Linked DNA regions of Homo sapiens. The protein of the gene in region 2 interacts with the protein of the main gene of each other region in a biochemical or structural test. Each region holds a gene or a part of one and is shown on either strand. Other genes may lie near its edges.

Evidence for each region.
Region 1: the proteins of EFHC1 (region 2) and TRPM2 form a complex in vitro, tested with the Homo sapiens proteins (one study listed by BioGRID).
Region 3: the proteins of EFHC1 (region 2) and SMURF2 interact in a surface display test, tested with the Homo sapiens proteins (one large-scale study listed by IntAct).

What each region holds. Positions count from the first base shown.
Region 1 is NC_000021.9:44,398,621-44,402,120, reverse strand, and holds part of TRPM2 (transient receptor potential cation channel subfamily M member 2), read right to left. Parts: intron 2,826-3,500; coding exon 2,680-2,825; intron 1,863-2,679; coding exon 1,750-1,862; intron 441-1,749; coding exon 224-440; intron 1-223.
Region 2 is NC_000006.12:52,426,124-52,431,306, reverse strand, and holds part of EFHC1 (EF-hand domain-containing protein 1), read right to left. Parts: intron 1-5,183. UniProt on the Homo sapiens protein: Microtubule inner protein (MIP) part of the dynein-decorated doublet microtubules (DMTs) in cilia axoneme, which is required for motile cilia beating.
Region 3 is NC_000017.11:64,557,808-64,561,307, forward strand, and holds part of SMURF2 (E3 ubiquitin-protein ligase SMURF2), read right to left. Parts: intron 1-3,500. UniProt on the Homo sapiens protein: E3 ubiquitin-protein ligase which accepts ubiquitin from an E2 ubiquitin-conjugating enzyme in the form of a thioester and then directly transfers the ubiquitin to targeted substrates.

The DNA of each region.
Region 1 (3,500 bases), on a different chromosome or scaffold from region 2:
GGCCGAGGGAAAGCAGGGAAGCAGGCGCAGGGGGCATGAGGAGGGAGGGGCTTGGAGGGCAGCGCCCCAGCCACCCATTTTGGGGAGGAAACACCGGCTCTGCTCAGCTTGCAGGGAGCTGGGCAGGCTAGATGGGGTGGGCTCTAAGCCATGGGTCCCCTATGAGAATGCAGCCAAGTGGGTGGCCCCGGGCTGGGGCGTGGAAAAGCGGGTGGGGCTGTACCTGCCGCATCTCCTCGCACACCAAGGAGAAGAGCCAGAGGTAGATGGCACACTCGCACCAGGAGGGCACAGGCTGGAAGTCCACCATGAGCACGTAGGCGAACAGGCAGAGGAAGGCGAAGTAGGAGAGGATGTTCAGGTGGAAGACCACCACGGGTGCGGTGAAGAAGGCACGGGCGCGGGCCGCGGGGGTGCCCACATCCTGCAGCCTCTTCTCCCTGCGGCCGTCACAGCAGAGAGGAGACAGTGACCACCAGGGCCAGGGTCCTGACCTCCACAGGCTTTGGCCACCCCGTGATCCCCCGTGCCCCTCAGAGAGATGTGCTTTTAGAGGCAAAAGCACTCAGGGATCCGGGGCCATAACGGCAGCTACAGGCGGAGCCGGCACAGCACAGCCTGGGAGCCTCACACACAGCCACCGGGGTGGGGCTGGACCCCACAGCCCAGCAAAGTGAGGACACAGGGATGCCCGCTGACGCCCTGCCCATGGCCATGACCTTAATGGCTGCAAACAGGGAGGCCCAGCCTGCCCCAAGCCCAGCCTTGGGTGGGCCCCAGCTTCAGAGCTCCCAGTGCTCAGTGGACGCTCAGGCCTTAGTCACCCTCCTGTAAATGGGGACAGGCTTTCCTTGCCGTCCTCAATGGGGGTGGGGCTGACCACACTCCCCCTGTGGTGTGCCCTGATCCCAGGTCCCTATCCCCGGGCCGCTGGAACGGGAGCAGAGGCGGCCATCAGTGACACGGCTCTGCCATCCTCGGGAGAGCAGGAGAGAAGCCAGCACTGCTTTAGGACACCTGAGCCGCTCCTCCCTGCCTCAGTTTCCCACCAGGATTCCTGAACACTCAAGTACCCATCCTGGCCGTGAGGAGAAAGGGAAGGAGGCAGGCAGTGTGGACTGCGGGTTGCAGAAGGGGCTCAGCCACCTCGCTGGGGTCTTGAATCTGCCCTGACTCCCAGGAGACCCTGAGCCTCCATCCAGCCCTCAGTAAAACACAGCAGATCCCACAACGCCCCAGCAAGCCTCTGAGGAGGTGCAGGTGGGGACACCAGGCCAGGCCAGGTCTTCAACCATGGCCAGCCGTGTCCTCCTCCTTCATAAGGGAAAGCGATTCCATCAATACAGGCTCTGCGGCTGCGAGGACAGGGAGGCACTCAGCCGCAGCTCGCTGCTCGCATCCCAGACCTGCACTAACTGCCCACGCCGCAGACTGGCTCAGGTCTACAGTGCCGGCAGGAGCAGGAGACCATCTTTCCTGGCCTCCCCAACCCCAGGCTGATGTGGCTGAGGGACGGGCTCATCAGCATCATGAGATCAGTGCTGGGGCTGGGGCAAGGCAGGTGCTTCCAGCACGTGGGGCCCTGCTCTGCTTCCCACCCCCATCTCTACAGCCCCAGGATCCAGGGACAATTCTGAGGACACATGACTTGCTCCCAGCGAGGGGATCTAGGGAAGATCCTGAGCCCCCAGGAGCCTCTCCCGCAGCCCCGCAGCCCCACAGTCCCGCAGCCCCGCAGCCCTGCAGCACCTGAAGGAGATGAGGCCGGTGAGGAGCAGCGGGAAGGCCAGCATGCACAGGGTCACACGCCACAGCCCATTGTCCACGGAGAGCTGGCCCCACCACACCTTGGTCAGGAAGGCCTGCGGATGGGGGCAGTCTCAGGATGGCAGTGCCCAGCCCTGTGCCCCAGATGGTGCCCGTCAGCTGTCTGCTGAGGACTCGGGGTGCCTAGTGGACAGAGCTAGCCTGCAGTCTCACAGCAGAAAGTGGTGAAGACACAGAGCTTGCCCTGGGGCTTTGGGTGTCCAATCCCGCCTTTCACCTGACCTCAAGCTATGGGACCCCATCTCTGCTGGCTTCGAAGGCCCCGCAGTTGCAGGCTGTAGAGCACTGGCCCCTCTGAGCTCTGCAGTGGGGGACAGGACCCTTCCCCAGGCCTCCCTAGGCCTGGCACAGCCCAGGACATGACGGGAGCTCATGGACTTGGCAATAGCTCGGCGCTCCAAGGAAGCCCAGCGTGCAAGGGGCACTCGCTGGGAGCCAGGCCCTGCCGGGGGTTCCAGGGCGATGCTGAGGGCAGCCATGCCTGGGAGCCCCTGCTGCTCCAGGGAGGACACGCCGTGTCCCGCTTATCCCTCCAGGGAGAGAGGGCAGACGCCGTTCCCAGAGCCACCTGGGCTTCTGCCTGCCGCTCCCAGGTAGGAACATCCATGGGGAGGTGAATTGCGATCTCCATGGCCACCAGCTCCTGCTTTTGCTTCATGTTAGCTTCCCCCCATCTGCAAAATGGGAGGCCAGAGCCTGGAGCAGGTGGCCGAGGGGTCAGGCGCTGTCCCCGAGCTGCTGAGGGCCCTGAAGCCTGTGTGAGTGTGCGTGCCAACTGCACGAACAGGAGGCTGTGTCCGCCCTGCAGGCACCACAGGCGTCTGTTTCTGGAAGGGGCTCTTGGGAGGTCACCTGGATGCCCCCGTGAGACACAAACTTCATGTCCTTGGCCTCCAGGGCGAGCTGCAGGCAGGTGGTCTTCCCCCAGGCCTCGGACACGCGGGTGAGCAGTTTCTGGGCTCTCTCTTCGTCCTTCCGGTAGCACTCGGTGAAGACCCCTGGGCGGAGATATGAGAGCCCCGTCAGAGCAGCAGGTCACAATCACTGAGCCCTGGGGACGGGTCAGAGGGCAACCACTCGGGACAGCACCACCAGGACACAGGGAAGGGCACAGGGCAAATGTGGGGCTGGTGTCTCAAAACACCCAGGCCCAGGGACGAGGACCCCAGGGAGAGGGCACGTAGGGCTGGAACTGCCTCTACAAAAATGACAACAGGGAGAAAACTCAGACAGGGACCGAGAACTGACCTAATGGACTCCATCTTGCCTCTAACCTCCAAGCTGCCCTTGTCCATTCCTGGGCATAGGCCACACTAACTTTGAGAGGAACTTCGTTTATAGTTTAACTTCCAAACAGAGATGATAGCGGCCCTTTCCCGAAACGAACCCCCTTCTTGCCTGGGAGCAGTCTGCGTTTGTAAGACTAACAAAGTAGCCACAAATTAGAAATTATGGTTTAGGAGTCACGCAGCCAGAGGCCACAAGATTCCAAACCTCCCCAACTCTTCCTAGGAATATCATCACTATTGGAAAACCCAGGATATTTTGAAAGCCTGCATTCTGATGCTTCACTGACGCCACCCCGACTGGAGATCTGGTGCAACCAGTTCTGTGACCACACGCAGAAACAGCAGACAGCGAGAAGAACCCACTTCGACCCCTGTGATCATGAA
Region 2 (5,183 bases):
ACTAACAGACAATCTAAGGCCACACCTCAAGGAACTAGAAAAACAAGAACAAACCAAACCCAAACCCAGCAGAAGAAAGAAAATAACCAAGATCAAAGCAGAAACAAATGAAATTGAAATAAACAAACAAAAAAAACAAAAGATAAATGAAACAAAAAGCTGGTTCTTTGAAAAGCTACATAAAATTGATAGACCATTAGCAAGATTAACCAAGAAAAGAAGAGAGAAAATCCAATAAGCTCAATTAGAAACAAAATGGAAGATATTACAACTGACACCACAGAAATACAAAAGGTCATTCAAGGCTACTATGAACACCTTTACGCACATAAACTAGAAAACTAGAGTAGATAGATAAATTCCTGAAAGATAAAACCCTGCTAGCTTAATTCAGGTAGAATTAGATACCCTGAACAGACCAACAACAAGCAGCAAGACTGAAATAATTAAAAAACTACCAGCAGGAAAAAGTCCAGGACCAGACAGATTCACAGAAGAATTCTACCAGATATTCAAAGAAAAACTGGTACTATTGGCACTATTCTACAAGATAGAGAAAGAGGGAATCCTCCATAAATCATTCTATGAAGGCAGTATCACCCTAATACCAAAACCAGGAAAGGACATAACCAAAAAATAAAACTATAGACTGATATCCCTGATGAACATAGATGCTAAAATCCTTAACAAAATACTAGCTAACCGAATTCAACAACATATGAAAAAGATAATCCACCACGATTAAGTGGTTTTCATACCAGGGATGCAGGGATGATTTAACATACGCAAGTCAATAAATGTGATACACCACATAAACAGAATTAAAAACAAAAATCACACGATCATCTCAATAGATGCAGAAAAAGCAATCAACAAAATCTAGTACCCCTTTCTGATTAAAATTCTCAGCAAAATTGATACAAGGGACATACCTCAATGTAATAAAAGCCATCTATGACAGACCCACAGCCAACATAATGCTGAATGGGGAAAAGTTGAAAGCATTCCCTCTGAGAACTGGGACAACATAAGGATGCCCACTCTCTCCACTCCTCTTCAGCACAGTACTAGAAGAAGTCCTAGGCAGAGCAATCAGACAACAGAAAGAAATAAAGGTCATCCAAATAGGTAAAGAAGTCAAACTGTCACTGTTCACTGATGATATGATTGTTTACCTGGAAAATCCTAAAGACTCCTCCAGAAAGCTCCTAGAACTGATAAAAGAATTCAGCGAAGTTTCTGGATACAAAATTAATATACACATATCAGTAGCTCTTCTTTACACCAACAGCGACCAAGCTGAGAATCAAATCAAGAACTCAACCCCTTTTACAATAGCTGAAAAACAAACAAACAAACAAAAACTTAGAAATATACATAACCAAGGAGGTGAAAGACCTCTACAAGGAAAACTACAAAACACTGCTGAAAGAAATAACAGATGACACAAATAATGAAACAAATAATGGAAACACATTCCATGCTGATAGGGTGGGAATCAACATTGTGAAAATGACCATACTGCCAAAAGCAATCTAAAAATTCAATGCAATTCCCATCAAAATACCACTATCATTCTTCACAGAATTAGAAAAAACAATCCTAAACTTCATATAGAACCTAAAAAGAGCCCGCATAGCCAAAGCAAGAATAAGCAAAAAGAATAAACCTGGAGGCATCACACTACCTGATTTCAAACTATACTATAAGACCATAGTTACCAAAACAGCATGGTACTGGTATAAAAATAGGCACATAGACCAATGGAATAGAACAGAGAGCCCAGAAATAAAGCCAAATACTTACAGCCAACTGATCTTTGACAAAGCAAACAAAAACATAAAGTGAGGAAAGGACACCCTATTCAACAAATTGTGCTGGGATAATTGGCAAGCCACAAGTAGGAGAATAAAACTGGATCCTCATCTCTCACCTTATATAAAAATCAACTCAAGATGGATCAAGGACTTAAATCTAAGACCTGAAACTATAAAAATTCTAGAAAATAACATTGGAAAACCTCTTCTAGACATTGGCTTAGGCAAGGGTTTCATGACCAAGAACCCAAAAGCAAATGCAATAAAAACAAAGATATATAGCTGGGACTTAATTAACCTAAAGAGCTTTTTCACGGCAAAAGGAACAGTCAACAGAGTAAACAGACAACCCACAGAGTGGGAAAAAATCTTCATAATCTATACATCTGACAAAAGATTAATATCCAGAATTTACAATGAACTCAAACAAATTAGCAAGGAAAAACAAAGAAGCCCATCAAAAAGTGGGCTAAGGACATGAATAGACAATTCTCAAAAGAAGATATACAAATGGCCAACAAACATATGAAAAAATGTTCAACATCACTAATGATCAGGGAAATGTAAATCAAAACCACAATGTGATATCATCTTAGTCCTGCAAGAATGGCCATAATCAAAACATCATAAAATATTAGATGTTGGTGTGGATGCAATGAACTGGGAACTGCTGGTGGGAATGTAAACTAGTACAACCACTATGGAAGATTCCTTAAAGAACTAAAAGTGTGAAGATTCCTCAAAGAACTAAAAGTAGAACCACCATTTGATCCAGCAATCCCACTACTGGGTATCTACCCATTGGAAAAGAACTCATCATACAAAAAAGATACTTGTACATGCATGTTTATAGCAGCACAATTTGCAACTGCAAAAATATGGAACCAACCCAAATACCCATCAATCAATAAGTGGACAAAGAAAATGTGATATATATGATGGAATACTATTTAGCCATAAAAAGGAATGAATTAATAGCATTCACAGTGACTTGGATGAGACTGGAGACTATTATTCTAAGTGAAGTAACTCAGGAATAGAAAACCAAACATTGTATGTTCTCACTCATAAGTGGTAGCTAAGGTATGAGGATGCAAAGGCATAAGAATGACACAATGAACTTTGGGGACTCAGGGGGAAAGGGTGGGAAGGGGGTGAGGGATAAAAGACTACAAATTGGGGGCACTGTATACTGCCTGGGTGATGGGTGCACCAAAATCTCACAAATCACCACTATAGAACTTACTCATGTAACCAAACACGACCTGTTCCCCAGTAACCTATGGAAATAAAAAAAATTGTTTTTAAAGTAGTGGGATAACATCAGCTTTCCCAGGTAGAATAAGAACTTGATTGTTACGTAGAAAGAAAAGAAAAATTATATTTAAATACTGTGTTTAAAAATATACTTTTCATGGAATTTTATAGCAGGCTGGGCTCCTGATTATCATGTATTCTAACCTTCTGAGTTTATAGACGAGGAAATTAGAGATTGTGACTACAAGGTCACAATGTTAGCTGGTAGGAGACCCAGAATTAGAATCCAGGTCTTCTAACTCCCAGGAAGTGCTCAGAATGCCACAATAAACATAAAAATATTTGTATTTACTTCAAGATGAAGGGGGGAAATGCTGCATAAATATTTTCATATCACACACAATTATAAAAAGCCAAGTCACATTTTTAATTTTACATTATTATAAGCATATATGGTACGTGTTTGACTTGCCAATTTTCAGCAGTGACACAGACAAGAAATAAATTTTGTTAATTATTCATGTCATTTTAGAACTGATATTTATTGAGCACTAAATATATAATAAACTATATAAGTCCTTACCTTCATGAAGTATACACTCAGGTGGGACAGATAAACACTAAACAAATCAGCAACACAAATTATAATATAGTGCTGCAAAGGGGAAAAAAAAAAAAGAGAGGGAAGTGATATAGAAAAATGAGGAGGAACTGCCATAGCAGAGTGGCCAGGAAAAGCCTCACTGAAAGGAAAGATGGAGTCAGCCACTTAAGGATGGTGGGGAAGCTATTTCAGATAGGAGAAATGCCATGTACAAAAAGGCCCTGAATTGGAATTTTCAAATGCTGCCATTTCAAGGAAATCAGTAAAAATAAATCCAATGTATTGAAACATGATAGGTGAGAAAAAGGACCCAAGATGAGGCTGGGGAGAGAGCAGGGAGGGCCAGCTCCAGTAGGGCTGTGAGGAACCTGTAGAGTTGGATCTTTATAGATGATAGGGAAGCCATGGAAGTGTTTCAGTCAGTATGTGACATAATCTGATTTTCAAAAAATAAGCCTGGCTGCTCTGTGGAAAATAAATTTATGGTAATAGTGAGGATGAAAATAAGTAAATGAATTAGTTACATATTTTAGAAGCAGAAACAATAGAACTTGCTAATAGATTAGATGTGGATTGTGAGGGGAAAGAAGAATGAAAGATGACTTTCATGTCACAGTGAGGTGAATGGTGGTAATGTTTACTGTATTGGTTAAGAAAGCCTGATGGCATTTTCCCAGAAAAATGACATAATCAGAGCTGAACTCTAGAGAATAAACAAGGCAGCATACCTGTTATAAGCATAAGGACTAGGAATGAGACTAAAACAACAGTTAGGTAGTCATTTGGCTTGTCTGAACTATGATAGTGGCAGAGGAAATGAAAGTGAGAGATATTTGACTTGGCAACTCATTAAGTGTGGAGGATAAAGGAGAGAAAAAGCCAAAGATGGCTCAGGTTTCAAGCTTGGATTACCTAGTGGAACCACACAGGGAAAGCAGATCTATGGGAAAAGGTGAGGGATAGAGATAAGTTAGAGACATACAGAACTTGAGGTACCAACAGTTCATCCAGGTGAAGATATCCCATGGGCCAGGGGGATACAGATCTGGAGTCTCAATGATGTCAGAGTTGGAACTAAATAGTGACATTCTCTACGGTGAGGTGACGGTTGAAATCACGAAAGTGGGTGAGATCTCAAGAAAATTATATAAAGAATGAGATAGAGCCTTGAAAATACTTGTAAGTTAAGAATTGAAAAGAGGAAGGGAGGCTAAAGAATAAGCAACCACATAGAAAGAAGGAGGAAAATGAGAGTCATGGAGGCAAAAGAAGAGCACAGTTTCAAGAAGGGAGGAAGGGTCAACAGTGTCAGATGGCATAAACAAGCCAAAGACAATGCTGGCAAAGTAAACCTCTCTAGATCTGGTAAAAGGACAGCACTGGCTACCTAGGAGAAAGTATTCTGGGGCTGTGGGTAGGGAGAAGTCAGATTGTAAGTGATTTGACAGTCAAGTGAGAAACAAAGTTATCTTGCTTAAAGGCATCACAAGGTATTATAGAAAGAG
Region 3 (3,500 bases), on a different chromosome or scaffold from region 2:
ATAATTATTTAAATTAATAAAAGGCAAAAAAGCACTAACTACAGTTATATAAGATCACATTGGAAAAATCTACCGTACCCAAATAGCATATAAAAACTCTATTATATTGAAGTAACATCTCACGCAAAATTTAGGCAATTTTATTATATTTTAGCATCAAAGAGTATAAAAGTATTATCCAACAGTTCAGCTACTCACGAGATGATACGGTCCAGTGGTCTGTTACTTTTAATTGCCAAATAAATTTGTAATCCATAATAAACATAAAACAAAAGGAAGAATATGGTTTTATTTCAAAATGTCCATGTGAGGCTGGGGACGGTGGCTCACACCTGTAATCCCAGCACTTTGGGGGGCCAAGACAGGTGGTTCGCTTGTGCTCAGGAGTTTGTGACCAGCCTGGGCAACAAGGCGAAATCCCATCTCTACAAAAAATACAAAAATTAGCCAGGTTGATGGCAAGTGCCTATAGTCCCAGCTACTTGGGAGGCAGAGGTGGGAGGATTGCTTGAGCCCTGGAGGTTGAGGCTGCAGTGAGCTGAGATTGCACCACTGCACCCCAGGCTGGGTGACAGAGACCCTGTCTCAAAGAAAAAAAAAAAAAGTCCACGTCATCTCTATTATCCTGGTCTACTCCTATCACGACCAGTTTATACAGACATATAATATAGTATTGATTTACTCTTCATTTTGGACAAGGCTATATTTTGTTGTAGTATTAAGGACATTTCATTATTCATTTCATTATCATTCACTGTATAAACCCTGAAACATACCATGATAAAAATATAAGTGGGCAAGGATTGCAAGGCATTTGGTGTAGGTATGGACTCAAGGGCAAACGTGCATTCTTTGGGTATGTTCCATACCACTTCTTGACTTCAATGTAAATCAATGTTTTTAAAACCTGGAATAAAAAGTACTTCCACCTTGAATTTATTAAAACCTTCAAATTTTTCAAAGTATAAAAGATAATTTGTTACTCACTTTGGAAATTCACTAGTCTAGGACTTAAGAGATGTAGTTCTAGTCTTAATTCTTGTCATTCCTTGGCTAGGGAAGGTTATTTAAATGATATATTTTGATATTATGGATTAAACAGATTGAATAATATTTTTGAGCAAATGCAGAATAGTATTAAAACTAGTTAAAGGAAACTGTTTCAAAATTCTATGTGATGGAGTCTAAATTAAATTACTACCATTATGTAACATTTGAAAAACTACTCTAGAGATTAAAAAAAGAAGTAACGTCTCCACATAAGCAGCCTTCCCAACATAACACTCATCTGATGTGTCTTGTGTTTTTGGTGTGTGTATGTGTTTTTTAAAAAGAAAATCCAAATTTTTGTTTTGTTTTACCAAGTATTTAGAACACAAATAAGAGCAGAACTCAACTACTTTGAGATTCTACTATGGAATAAAGTTCAGAAAAAGCAGATCACTGTCACATTCCATTTATTCTGCTCAAACCCTGACAGTAGTAAGGTTAAAAAACAAAAAACTGGGCTGGGTTCGGTGGCTCATGACTGTAATCCCAGCACTTTGGGAGGCTAAGGCGGGCAGATCACAAGGTCAGGAGATTGAGACCAGCATGGCCAACATGGTGAAACCCCGTCTCTATTAAAAATACAAAAATTAGCTAGGCGTGGTTGTATGCGCCTGTAGTCCAGCTACCCGGGAGACTGAGGCTGGAGAATCGCTTGAACCCAGGAGGCAGAGGTTGCAGGGAGCCGAGATTGCGCCACTGCACTCCAGCCTGGCGACAGAGTGAGATTCCATCTCAAAAACAACAACAACAAAAAAAACTGACTACGAGCCAGGCATGGTGGCTCGCGCCTGTAATTCCAGCACTTAGGGAGGCGGAGGCTGGAGGATCACTTGAGGCCAGGAGTTTGAGACCAGCCTGGGCAACACAAGATCCTGTTTCTACCAAAAAAAAAAAAATTTTTTTTTTTTTGAGACGGAGTCACACTCTGTCACCAGGCTGGAGTGCAGTAGCACGATCTCGGCTCAGTGCAACCTTTGCCTCCTGGGTTCAAGTGATTCCCCTGCCTCAGCCTCCCGAATAGCTGGGACTACAGGTGTGCGCCACCATACCCAGCTAATCTTTTTTTTTTAGTTTTTAGTAGAGACGGGGTTTCATCATGTTGGCCAGGATGGTCTCAATCTCTTGACCTCGTGATCTGCCCACCTCAGTCTCCCAAAGTGCTGGGATTACAGGTGTGAGCCACTGCACCTGGCCAAATTTTTTTTTTTTTAATTAGGCATGGAAGCATGTGCCTATAGTCCTAGCTCTTTAGGAGGCTGAGGCAGGAGGATCACTTGTACCTAGGAGTTCGAAGCTGCAGTGAGCCATGATCACACCACTGCACTCCATGGAGCCTGGGTGACAGAGTGAGACCCCGTCTCTAAAAAACTAAATAAATAAAATAAACTACTTATTTGATCTATACATATAATTATAGTACTTAGATGCCACCAGTAGTTGATGATGAAGTGTTCCCAATAAACATTCACTCTAGTTATGAGTAAGTAATACAAATTCCACAGAAACTGTCAAGTCCTAAGTATGATGTACAAGGGATTATTTTTAAAAATCCACACTAAAGAAACTATCCATCCGTAGGTTTAAAAGGTGACAGAATGAAAATAAGGCTACAAATACACACATGTAATGCTAAATAACAATTAATGGGAATTATTGAAAACATAATTTTGGTTGGATTTAAGATTAGGGAAAGCAGAATTACCACAATGATCCTTGGAACATTTCAATACAGAGCTACAGTGTTTCTCCATTTATATAAAACGAATTTTCACACATAGAAAAGAATTCTTGTAGTAAATATAATATCAGAAATAAATCACTGGCTGGGTGTGGTGGCTCACACCTGTAATCCCAGCACTTCGGAAGGCTGGGGCAGGCAGATTGTTTGAGCTCAGAAGTTCGAGAATAGCCTGGGCAACATGGCAAAACCCCATCTCTACAAAAAAAAAAAAACAAAAACTAGCCGGGTGTGGTGGCTTGTACCTGTAGTCCCAGCTACTCAGGAGGCTGAGGTGGGAGGCTCTCTTGAGCCCAGGATGGGGAGGTTGCAGTGAGCTGAGATCACGCCACTACACTCCAGCCTGGGTGACAGAGGGAGACCCTGTCTCCAAAAAAAAAAAAAAAAAAAAAAAGAAAGAAAATTAATTTGACTTGACCTGTGAGTTACAAATGTAGCAGAAGCATTCTACCTTCTGTACTGAAACATTCTGAGGACCATCATGATATGTACATGTGTATACACACATGCATGCATACACATTCATTTAACAAGGAAAAAAGGCATAACAAATGGAAGCAAAGAGAACCAGTATTCAGTTCAGGTTATATATCATTTAAATCTCAAAACTGTTCCTGACAATGTAAAGCAGAGGCAATAATGTACTTAAAGAGAGAGATGGAGAAAACACAGGGCCTGCAGTCTCATGGGACTCAGATGGTCTACTGGGGAG